Homo sapiens: one gene and its partner. The protein of the gene in region 2 purifies or fractionates together with the protein of the main gene of each other region. This does not show direct contact. Each region holds a gene or a part of one and is shown on either strand. Other genes may lie near its edges.

Region 1 (7,039 bases), on a different chromosome or scaffold from region 2:
AACTCTTAGTATTAAGAGTGTTAATATTTTTACATTTAGCTTACTTAGCCATATTGTAATTGTTTTCCCAATAAACGTGATGAAAATTCAAGGACTCTGGTGAAGATAACTGTATCAAAATGTGACTCACTAAGAACCACAGAAATGCTTGTATCAAGTATGGCCTCAACCAGAGTCCATAAATTCTTCATGTAATTAAAAGTGGATATACTGGTATGTATTCTCAGTCTAATGATTTTCTAAATCCAGCTGTTTCTCCAATAATGTTCCCTTAGATATACAAAGTTAAATATAAGCCACAGGTCTTCGTATTATTTATGTCCTGAGAGGCCCTAATAAAGACAGCATTAAAGACAAGCCTTTAGCTGAAAAACAAAACCATCAACTCAGGAACAAGATACTAATATTAAACATAAGATCCCAGGGTCAACTCTGGCACAAATGCAGATTTATCATTTGTGATGCCAAGTGGTAACCAGTCTTACGTCTCAGAAAGGCAAGACCCAAGGAAATCTAGGAAGTAGTATTTCAACTCTGATGGAATTACAGTGCAGATATCATACCATATTAATGAATGATAGAAGATATGTAAGTATTACTTGTATAGATAACAGCTTTAGGCTCCAGTCTGTAGAAATCACCAAGACACGGGTGGTTAAAGAGCCTACAAAACTCCTTTTACTGTCTCAGGTTCTTGAAACGTTCTTAATTATATAATTAAGATCCTTCTCAAAACATAGCCCAGGGCCCAGAGTTTTCAAAAGTAATCTCCAAGATGAATATTTGGGTCCCTCTTCTCCTTAGATGCTTTAACCCACTAGTTCCCTAATACAGGTACATATCTAGTTAATAATAAACATACTCAAACACAAAACCACGTGATATACAAATTATATCATTTCATTCTGAAAACAAATGCAAGCATTATTCTCTTTCATAACTGAAGAAACTAAAACTCCTTGAGGCAAAGTAACTTCCCCAACATTAACAGCTAAGAAGGGGCTCTCTTTATTACTTACTTGGGTTTTATGGGATCAAACGGCACCTCTTCCAATAGATCATATATGTAATTATTATATATTTCAATATAAGAGACAAATACACCATAGACACTATCTTCATCAACCTCTTCTGCTTTGCAGAATTCTTGTACAGTTATCATATCTGCAAACTCTGGATCTACTTGTCGTCTAAAAAAAGAAAAGTTCAATTGTATACGTTATAAGTCCATTTTAAAAGTAAATGATCCCAGCCGGGCATGGTGGCTCACAGCTATAATCCCAGCACTTTGGGAGGCCGAGGCAGGCGGATCACCTGAGATCAGGAACTCAAGACCAGCCTGGCCAACATGGTGAAACCCCGTCTCTACTAAAAATACAAATTAGCCGGGCATGGTGGCGTGTGCCTCTAATCCCAGCTACTAGGGGGGCTGAGGCAGGAGGATCGTTTGAACCTGGAAGGCAGAGGTTGCAGTGAGCCGAGATCATGCCACTGCACTCCACCCTGGGCAGCAAAGTGAGACTCTGTCTCAAAAAAAAAAAAAAGTAACTGATCCCAAGGGGAAACTAACAGATAAAATAAATATCTGCAATTACAAGCAGAAATGCACAAAGCAGCTTTATTCATACTCATGGTTTGCCAACAGTATTCCCACGTCCTCCCGAACACACAACAATGGCTTTTATACCCTCTCCCCATCCAGAGTGGCACCCTCTTAAAACAGTGATTGAAACAAAATGTGCTCAAAGCCAAAGAGAAAACATCTGAGCAAAGAACTTAAGAACATTCCTTAACTTTAATCTCACAAAAGTCAACTTCTCTATTTAATGTTCACCATTCCTCATGTCTGGGCAAACCACAGGAAAGAATCCTGTGCCCCTAGGCCAGTGCTGCAGACAAATATAATTACTTACTTGCTAGAAGAAGTCTTTGGATTGGGCATAGCTTCTCTTTTCTGACGTTCTAATAAGGCATCAACCTCACACTGTATATCCATACTATTCCTATCATTAGATTTGAAAACCTGAAGTGGGGGCAAAAAAAAAAAAATCACACCACGTTTTTTAGAATTTAACTTAAATAGTAAGAAATATGTTTAAAAACTAAGGAACAGTTAAGGTTTCAAAATGAATCCAGTGCTTTGGTTCTTCTTTACTACTACTGTATCCATAGGTGTCTTAGTCCAGTAAGATAGTCACAACACAAAAGAATCATACTTACATATCGTTTAGCTTGAAATGACCCTATACTGTTAAAGATCATGTCCAAACAACGAGGAAGCAGCCCTCCTTCCCCTGGAGAACCAGTCATTGTGTGAGTTTTTCCACTTCCCGTCACACCATATGTAAAAAGAAGACCTACAGTGTAGCAAGTCACAATGAGTTATATCTTAGAAGTTCTCCACTTAGAGTATTTCTTCACTGCATTAGAAAACACTAACAATTAGCCAGCTCAAAAAAGGCAAGTTTAGCACCACCCTAACAAATTAAATATGGATTCAACACCAAACATAAATCAAATATATAAATATCAAAAAAGTTTTATCAGAAGAGGAGAAAAAGGAAAATCTAACAAAACTCCAAGAGTCATATCATACCATTTTTGCCATGAATGAGGTCATTGACCAAGGGATTAGCCACAACATCAAAGAGTTCCTTCTGGGTGGTGTGAGTGCCAAATACTTGTTTAAATGAATACTGAGTCTGTGGAGAGAGAAAAAAATGCACTAAATAGAATTCCACTATTATCTAGGCTAAAAATACATCTCCTTAAACTTAAGGTGTTTATGACATTTAAGATCTAAGCATGCAAAGAAAAAATATAAATGGTCTTTTTACAGTTGGAACCCTTAGTTATTTAGTTACTAAAAAGTCATGACATACCTATATCATACCAATTATAAACTGGTAAACGTTTTCAGTCACAACTACTAAAGAAAATGTAGAAAACTCTTTTTTTTTGAGACAGAGTTTTGCTCTTGTTGCCCAGGCTGGAGTGCAATGACACAATCTCGGCTCACTGCAACCTCTGCCTCCTGGGTTCAAGCGATTCCCCTGCCTCAGCCTCCCAAGTAGCTGGAATTACAGGCACGTGCCACCACACCTGGCTAATTTTTATATTTTTAGTAGAGACGGGTTTCACCATGTTAGGCTGGTGTCAAACTCCTGATCTTAGGTGATCCACCCACCTCAGCCTTCCAAAGTGCTGGGATTACAGGCGTGAGCCACCACACCTGGCCAAAAATGTAGAAAAGTCTTAAGTCTACTAATGCTTCTAATCTAAGGCTGATTTTGTTTTAATTAAGTGACAGAGATCAAAAGGTATTGTAACGATTCATAGTCACAGATTTGTGGAAATCTACAAGCATTATGTCATACACAACTTTACTGTTTCCTAGTTTTTCTTTATAAAGGTGTCATTTAAAATAGCAAAGCATGGGCATAGTGGCTCACACTTATAATCCCACTTTGGAAGGCTGAGGCAGGAGGATCACTTGAGGCCATGAGTTAAGAGACCAGCCTGGGCAAGCTCATCTAATAAAAAATTTTAAAAGTAAAAACAACAAAAAAACCTCACCAAAAAACAGTGAGCTGTGGTCACACCATTGCACACCAGCCTGGGCAACAAGTGAGACCCTGTCTCAAAAAAGAAAAAGAAAAAAGACATATAAAATAAAATGGCATAGCAGCATAATACCACGTTTTGATGTACTATAGTTTAAAACCAGAAGTAAACTGTAAATATTATCTCATCTCTGAGTTCTTACATGAAATACATTTTAAATAAATTGTGACCTTTAAGAAAGCAAGAATACTTCAATTATCAAGGCTCTCTAAATACAATTAATAAAATATCCTGTAAAAATCAGCTTTAGAGTTCAAAAAGAACAAAGAATCTTGGAACTGAAAGGATACACATAGGCTAATACTGAGAAGATAGATGACCTCACAGTCCTCATGAATGACTCCCTCCTTTCAAGGTAAAGAAAACTGAGGCCCGAAGGTGAAACTTCTCTGAGCCCATGGAGTTAATTAGTATCAAAGCCATCATCAGTGCAATGTTTTTGTTTTCTTCTTTTTTTTTTTGAAACAGAGTCTCACTCTGTCACCCAGGCTGGAGTGCAGTGGTAGGATCTCGGCTCACTGCAACCTCTGCCTCCTGGGTTCAAGCAATACTCCTGCCTCAGCCTCCCGAGTAGCTGTGATTACAGGCGCATGCCTCCACGCTGGGTAATTTTTGTATTTTTAGTAGTGATGGGGTTTCGCCATGTTGGCCAAGCTAGTCTCGAACTCCTGATCTCAAGTAATCCCTCTGCCTCGGCCTCCCAAAGTGCTGGGATTACACATGTAAACCATCATGCCCGGCAGCAATGCTCTTTTCATTATACAATGTTGCCTTCTGTCAGAAAGCAGTGACTATTTTTAATCCCCATCAAACCTTTTTATACCTACTCGATACCTACTCGATACCTATATTTATACATACTTGAAATTTACTTAAAGAAGTAAAACTCAGTAAATCAGTGTTTAACTATATTATATCCTTAAAGACCTGCTCCTCCAAAAAACCCTCCCAGACCATTCATTCTTGCTGAAGCCATATTTACTATTTGATGAACAGAACATATAAGGTACATATTCCCTGGAAGTTTACATTATGGTAGAGGAAAGACAATAAACAAGTAAACAAATAGATTGTGGTTAAGTAATGTAAAGGAGGCATACAGAGTACAGACCAGGGGAGAGGGGTTGTGGGGTGCTGTTTCTGATTGGGTAGTCTATACAACCCGAGGAGGTGATATTTAAGCTGAAACCCAACGATGACCCATGCTAAGACCCAGAAAAAGAGAAGTCCAGGTTAAGGCAACAGCTAACAGCCAGGATTCTGCCTTATCCAAGAAACTCAAAGGATTGGATGAATACTAAAAGATGAATGAAGGTGGAGAGACAGATGGGAGACGGATGAAGCAGGATTTTGTCTGTTCAAAGATTTTATTCTTTGAAAGGTTTTGAACAGGAAAATGAGATTTTATGTTTTAAAAGATCACTGTCTGCTCTGTAGAAATGGATTAGAGAAGATTCCAAGTGGAGGCAGTTGGGCTTTGGAAGTCTTGTCAATGATACCCAAAGCACACTCAGCAAACCAATGCCAGTCTGAGATTGGTTACCAGACTACTTAAATGTTTAGAAAGTTGTTTTTTGTTTGTTTGTTTCTTTGTTTGTTTGTTTTTTGAGATGGAGTTTCACTCTTGTTGCCCAAGCTGGAGTGCAATGGCGCGATCTCGGCTCACTGCAACCTCCGCCTCCTGGGTTCAAGTGATTCTCCTGTCTCAGGCTACTGAGTAGCTGGGATTACAGGCACACGTCATCATGCCCGGCTAATTTTTGTATTTTTAGTAGAGACAGGGTTTCATCATATTGGTCAGGCTGGTCTTGAACTCCTGACCTCAGGTGATCCACCCACCTTGGCCTCCCAAAGTGCTGAGACTGCAGGCATGAGCCTCCATCTGGCACTGCTCAATTATCAGTATTTCAGCATGTATTCAATAGGCTCATCTCTATGAAGAGATTATGAACTAGTTCCCTATTGTCTAACTCACACGGGCAGTTCCATCTAGCACAAGTTGTACAAAAGTCTCAGCTGTGACGCATTAAAAATAAAAAAGCTACTCCTTCATTACAGTAGCTCTGGTCTCAGTGATTAATAATGGGGCTCAGACTAGGGTGGTGGCAGTGGAGATGGAAATGAAAGGACAGTTTCAAGACACATGTTGGAATATAACTGATAGGAGCTACTAATGAACTAGTTATAAGGAGAGGCAAGTAAAAGGTAGGTACCAGGTTTCTGGCTTGAGCAACTGGACACACGATAGTGCCATTCCTTGAGAAGAAAACAAGGGAGGAAGTATTTAGAGAGGGAATAAGAAAAATCAAGAACTCCTTTTTGGGCATGTAAAATTTGAGATGCACATGTGACATCCAAGCAGAGATATCAAGTAAGTGGTTGAATGTTGAGAGCCAGAGAAAAGGTTTCAGCTGGAGATACAAGGAGAGCTGGAGGGGGAGACAGGAGAGTGCTGCTGACAAACAGGTTAAAATGAGGATGAAGAGGTATACATCAAATTTAGCAGCAAAGAGGCCACTGGTAGTCTTCTGAAGAGCAATTTCACAGGAATAGTAGGCACAAAAGAGTGAGTGACAGCTAGAAGTAGAAATGGTAGCCTGAATTAATCCTACTGCATTCCCACGGTCCCCTCATCTTTAGCACATCTAACTTTCTGTCTTATTTATATGAGAATTATTTGTTTACCATATATCTTAAGTTATAAACTTTCTAAAGGCAAGGAGTATGTCATGCTCTTTTTTTTAATCTCCTTCCACCCTCCAACTATTAGCTTAGCACATTTGCTAAACAATATTTTTGAGCTGACTCAAAACTTTACTAAAAATAAAAACACTGCATAGGAGGTTGATGCAAGTAAACAATGTCTATTATTAAATGTTATTTTCATTTCCACACATCAAGTTGTATATATAAAACTGCCTAGCACAATCATGTATCATTCCACATTAAATCATCCCTAACACATGCTCTAAGAAACAATAATACTCAGTGTAAGAAATTATCTGCTAAAAGCAATCCTCTAACCCCAGCATACCAAAGGTATGTCTGTGCATCCCAGAAGTCAAAAACACTTTAGATACAGTGGTTATAATGAAGTAAATAAGTCTTTTGAAAATGTGGGCTCACAAATGAACTTTGTTACATCTAAAAATCTAGAAGTCATTCAGGAAACAACATATTGAGTAAAAACAACTTGGTCCAAATCAGAATTACCTCCTTATAGTCTCCATTTCGGTTGAGTCTGTAGCCCTCAGGAGTATGAAGCTGAACAGTTGTATTATTGATCACTTCTATGCAACACTCTTGATCAGGAAAGCCCAGTGGGCGCACCCTACAGTATACCTGAAGAAATAGGAAGGTGCTTTAAGAAGAAAGTTCGACCTTTTGCCTGATTTTTCACTTAAGCTTCTCATTC
Region 2 (5,779 bases):
TCAAGAGATTCTCCTGCCTCAGACTCCTGAGTAGCCAGGATTACAGGCACACACCACCACACCCAGCTGATTTTTGTATTTTTAGCAGAAACGGGGTTTCACCATGTTGACCAGGTTGGTCTTGAACCCCTGACCTTGTGATCTCCCTGCCTCAGCCTCCTGAAGTGCTGGAATTATAGGCTTGAGCCACCTTGCCCAGCCTAATCTTTTTTTCTTTTCTCAAAGGACTTCTATGCACTTAGGAGAGTGAGCCCATCGTTCAGTAACAACATGATTCAATACTGCAAGACCTTGATGCAGTATTTCAAAGTCTTTCCAGTAGGTGAGGGAGGCTTTCAGTGATGCTTAGACCTTCATGCCCTAGAATTTGGAGATTGCATCCTTTAGAAATGATACCAAGGGAAATCTGCCCATGAGCAGCACTGGATGGGACTGTACCAGATGACTTAAAACTAAGGATAACCAAGGAAAAGCCTTCCTTAGAAGCAGACATCATCACATGGTAGACAGTTTTCCAAGACAATGGAACAAGACTCCATTTGATCTTCTTCCATTGACTGAGACTTGGTTTTGTTTTGTATTAAAACAAAATGCTCAAACCTATATTTTATGTTGTTAGGTACTTTCTCCACTCAAACCAAACACTTTCTAAGGTCTTCTGTTCAAAATGTAGCCACTCTCACTAACCAAAGCAATTGCTGGCTATGGAGTCATTTACATGAAAGGGAAGGATCACAACTAAATAGTAGAACATGCTCTCATAAACAGTTGGGTAGCAATTGAGGATGCCAACTTCATGATAAGGTTTGTTATCCTTCCTTTGGAAGGTTGGTTAACATTTATAATTACATGACTTGGCACTGAGAAGAAGCTATAGGTGCAAATGGGTGGCCTATGACTATTATTGATTACATTACTGGCATTTTATCTCTATGCATAAAAAACATTAGTGAAACTGGATCTAATCTAGGTAGTGTCGCAGATTCCCACTAGAATCAAACTCTTTGGTTTGACACACCTTATGAAGACTGGAGTGCTATAGGTATCGACATAGACATAGAATCAGAACATGACCATGTTACCCTCTGCCATTTAATCAGAGAACTTACTGAAACTAGACATTGGTTCATTGGAAACTCTAGAGGCAAATAGAATGTGTCTATAGCTCTACTATGTGAAATACATAATAGTTTTATTTATTGGATGCATCAATACTCAGGACATATTTGGAGAGGAACCTATTCATTCTTCAATGCAGATGGCATGCAAGGATTACTTTATAAAACTCATAGAAATACTTTTTCTTCCCACCCCAATTCAAACCATTACCATGCAACCTGGTATCAATAGAAGTTAAGGCCATTGAGGTAGAAATAATTAAATAAAGCTTTATTGGAAGCTAAATGTGAGAATCGACCTGGAAGACACACACTGACAAAGTGAGTGTTTTCCAAAGTCTGTTACAAGTTGGAATGCTTTTGTAAGAGAGGTTAAAAGAAGGGAATGGGACTCCTCCTATCAATTTTTTTTAATTTTCTTTTGTTTTATTGACCTGGCAAGGCTCAAATAGAGTTGAGTTTTTGTTTTTGTTTTTCCCATTGGAAGGTACAAGACAGAGGTTACAATCGTTAGCTTTAGATGACAACATAACAGGCTAAAACATTTTCCTTGCAAGACAACCAGCATGACTTCATGATCAGAATAAAATCAGTGTCCTTCTCACTGTCAGCGGGTGAAGACTTCATCAGTACTTGTAGAGTTTGAGGTACTCATGAACTCATGATCAGATTCTTTACTCAGGGACAGGATGTAAGCCAATGCTAAGACCTTCTATAGGTGGCTAATTTTTAAGCTTGCCCCAATGAGACCTTCAGGTTTTCACTGGCAATATGCAGGTGCAGATATGACAAAGAATAACAATGACCTTCATATCACCTCCAGCTGTTGAGGAATGGGATCCTTTTCACCCTTCCTGTCCATAAAACCAAGTTACTCATCTTCAGTGGCAACAAAATATATGGTAAACTTAACAGAGAAGGAGACTGTCAGAAAAAAAAAAAAAAAAGATGTGTTTATCCTGAAATGAGGAAAGCAATGGGAATAGATGTGAGATTATTTTGGGAGAAAAAGGAAGACAAAGGTTTTGAAAGGAAAAATAAGGAGGATTATACAAATTGTTTTGAAAGACTCAACCTTGGTCCTAAGAATCAAAAGTAAAGGGGCATCAGTGAAATGTTGGATAGATTCCACCTCCACCCCCTCAGTAACCCCCAACATGTTTACCAAGTCTTGGTTAACTCCCAGGATCCCATTAAAACACCCAGCTCAACCATGCCCATCCTCTACCCTCACTTCTCTTTGTAATTTTGACATGATTTTATTACAGGACCATCAGGTTCCTATGCCTGCTGCACAGTAGCTGACCAATATTCTGAGACAGCAGTGTTTGCAGCAGACAGTTTAATGATCACAGGGTGGCTAAATGAGAAGCTAGGAGGATATCCTCAAATTCATCTCCCCAAGTAGTACTGAGGGTTTCCAGTGGATCCTGGATAGCAAGGGGCTGGAAAGTTGGTGTAGAGGTAAGAGGGATGAAGTCATCAGGATGTCAAAACTGCATTCTTTGGTGAGTTGGTGCCTTGCAGAGCCCTTCAGATCAGCTGGCATCAGTAGTTTCACTGACATGCAGAACCTGAAAGAATATCTCAAATGAGAAAGTTAATGTTTTACAAGGCTTAAATTGTTGTCTGCAGGGTAGTTAAGGGGAACTGTAAGCTAAGGTCTACTTGATTTGGGGACAGTAAGCTGCCAGCAACCATGAGGAAGAAGGTCAGAGAGCAAGCTGACCTCATGGTGAATGCTGAATGCGCTGCAAGCTTGGTTTATTTTTGTTTCTCCCCCTCCCTTCTTCACTGATTAAACTTATAAAGTTTACAGGTATCATTTCAATTTCTTCCAGAGAAGACTTAACCTAAGCCCTGAGACCACTCAAGCCCTCAGTGGCACCTCTCTTCCACCAGCACGAGTGAAGAAACTGCTACCTTAGGTGATATAAAACCCACAAGACCATTCCATACATGGAGATCTTTATTCTTATTTTGTAGGGACGACTCCTCTGTGTTTATACAGCTATTTTAACTAGAAATATTTTTATAAATTTTATAATTTTGATGTGGCCAAAGATCTCCCCACAACACTACTTTCAGGTTTTATTTTTCTGTCTAATGTCTGGAACAGATCAACCCCTTCCCTGCCTCACATCAGGACTTGAAGGCGAAATAGCAGTAAAATTCCATCAGTGTTTGTGGATTTCATGAATGAATGCATTTTTTTTGACAAAATCTCCCTCTGTCGCCCAGTCAGGAGGGCAATGGTGTAATCTTGGCTCACTGCAAACTCAGCCTCCAGGGTTCAAGGGATTCTCCCACCTCAGCCGCATGAGTAACTGGACTACAGGCAGCCACCATCGTGCCTGGCTAACTTTTCTATTTTTGTAGAGACAGGGTTTCACCATGTGGGCCAGGCTGGTCTTGAACTCCTGACCTCAGGTGATCCACCTACCTTGGCCTCCCAAAGTGCTGGGATTACAAGTGTGAGCCACCTCACCTGGCCTTGAGTGAATGAATTCTTGATTTCCACTCTATCCCTAACTCTGTCAATTTCTTAATTCATAAAATGATTATGCATATGTGATATGAATGGATATCTCGTTCAATCCATTAGTCTTCGGACAGTCAAAAACCCAATCAGGATTAACTGAGTGGAGCTTCAGAAATGCAATCAGATATCGCTTTTTGATTGGAAGCTAGCAGCGGATACGTGGAGGGGCGTGGGTGGGAGTTGTGATTAGAAAGGTCAATAAAAGCTTCTAAAGACCCACAGGACAAACTCAAAGTCTTCAAGCCTGGAGTTCCTGCTTGGCTCTTCCTGAGGTCTGAGCACCTTCTAAACTACAACCAGATCTGGTAAGTCACTAATTTCTGTAAGGACACTCCCATGTGACCTACAGTCAGCCGGTCTAGAACGGTGACAGTGCAGCCTACGATGGCATAGAACTATATCATGTCTTTTTTTCTTTTTTTCATATGAACACTTTGAAGCTTTGATTTTTTTTTCTAAATGCAATTTTGTCGTGATTTCAAAAATGTTGTTGTGCTTTTCTTTACATCATTTCAGAATTCTTGTTGGCAGCCATTTTGTGAAGAGACGAAGACTGAGCTGTTTTGGCTGCATTTCTGGCCTCGAGCCGCAGTCAGTTTCTCCCCGTAGAACCCGGCAGTAGGAGACTTAGAATCGAATCTCTTCTCCCTCCCGCCTCCTGTTTTTGGCTTTTTGAGAAACCTTATCATCCAACACAATGGCCAGCAACGTTACCAACAAGATGGATCCTCACTCCGTGAACTCCCGTGTGTTCATTGGGAATCTCAACACTCTTGTTGTCAAGAAATCTGATGTGGAGGCGATCTTTTCCAAGTATGGCAAAATTGCGGGCTGCTCTGTTCATAAGGGCTTTGCCTTCGTTCAATATGATAAGGAGAAAAATGCCCGGGCTGCTGTAGCAGGAGAGGATGGCAGAATGATTGCTAGCCAGGTTGCAGTTATTAACCTGGCTGCAGAGCCAAAAGTGAACCGAGGAAACGCAGGTGTGAAACGATCCGCAGCGGAGATGTACGGCTCCTCTTTTGACTTGGACTATGGCTTTCAACGGGATTATTATGATGGGATGTACAGTTTCCCAGCACGTGTACCTCCTCCTCCTCCCATTGCTCTGGCTGTAGTGCCCTCGAAACGCCAGCGCATATCAGGAAACACCTCACGAAGGGGCAAAAGTGGCTTCAATTCTAAGAGTGGAAAGCGGGGATCTTCCAAGTCTGGAAAGCTGAAAGGAGATGACCTTCAGGCCATTAAGCAGGAGTTGACCCAGATAAAACAGAAAGTGGATTCTCTCCTGGAAAACCTGGAAAAAATTGAAAAGGAACAGAGCAAACAAGAGGTAGAGGTGAAAAATGCTAAGTCAGAAGAGGAGCAGAGCAGTAGCTCCATGAAGAAAGATGAGACTCATGTAAAGATGGAGTCTGAGGGGGGTGCAGAAGACTCTGCTGAGGAGGGGGACCCACTGGATGATGATGATAATGAAGATCAGGGGGACAACCAGCTTCATTTGATCAAGAATAATGAAAAAGATGCTGAGGAAGGAGAGGATAACAGAGACAGCACCAATGGCCAGGATGACTCTTAAGCACATAGTGGGGTTGAGAAATCTTATCCCATTGTTTCTTTACCTAGGAGCTTGTCTAACAACAAATTTTTCACCAGATCCTCTCCCTTAGTATCTTCAGCACATGCTTACTGTTCTCCCCATCCTTGTCCTTCCCACATTCATTAATTCATATTGCCCTGCGCCTAGTCCCATTTTCACTTCCCATGACACCCCTAGTAGTTTTCCTAAGTCTTACCCTGTAATTTTTGCTTTTAATTTTGACACCTCTTTATGACTTAACAGTAAAAAGGATGTATGGTTTTTATCAACTGTCTCCAAAATAATCTCTTGTTATGCAGGGAATACAGTTCTTTTCTTTCATACATAAGTTCAGTAGTTGCTTCCCTAACTGCAAAGGCAATCTCATTGAGTTGAGTAGCTCCTGAAAGCAGCTTGGAGTTACAAGTATGTGTGTTACACCCCATATTAGTGTGCTGTGTGGGGCAGTTCAACAAAAATCTAACAATGTATTTTTGTGAATGAGAGTTGGCATGTCAAATGCATCCTCAGAAACATAAT

Evidence for each region. The genes of interacting proteins can lie anywhere in the genome.
Region 1: the proteins of HNRNPCL2 (region 2) and KIF23 purify together in Homo sapiens (affinity purification with mass spectrometry; 2 studies listed by BioGRID and IntAct, with this or other methods). This does not show direct contact.

Annotation. Positions count from the first base shown.
Region 1 is NC_000015.10:69,417,310-69,424,348, reverse strand, and holds part of KIF23 (kinesin-like protein KIF23), read right to left. Parts: intron 6,967-7,039; coding exon 6,838-6,966; intron 2,703-6,837; coding exon 2,597-2,702; intron 2,358-2,596; coding exon 2,221-2,357; intron 2,024-2,220; coding exon 1,914-2,023; intron 1,191-1,913; coding exon 1,020-1,190; intron 1-1,019.
Region 2 is NC_000001.11:13,114,979-13,120,757, reverse strand, and holds HNRNPCL2 (heterogeneous nuclear ribonucleoprotein C-like 2), read left to right. Parts: upstream 1-3,903; 5' UTR 3,904-3,965; intron 3,966-4,176; 5' UTR 4,177-4,357; coding exon 4,358-5,239; 3' UTR 5,240-5,270; downstream 5,271-5,779.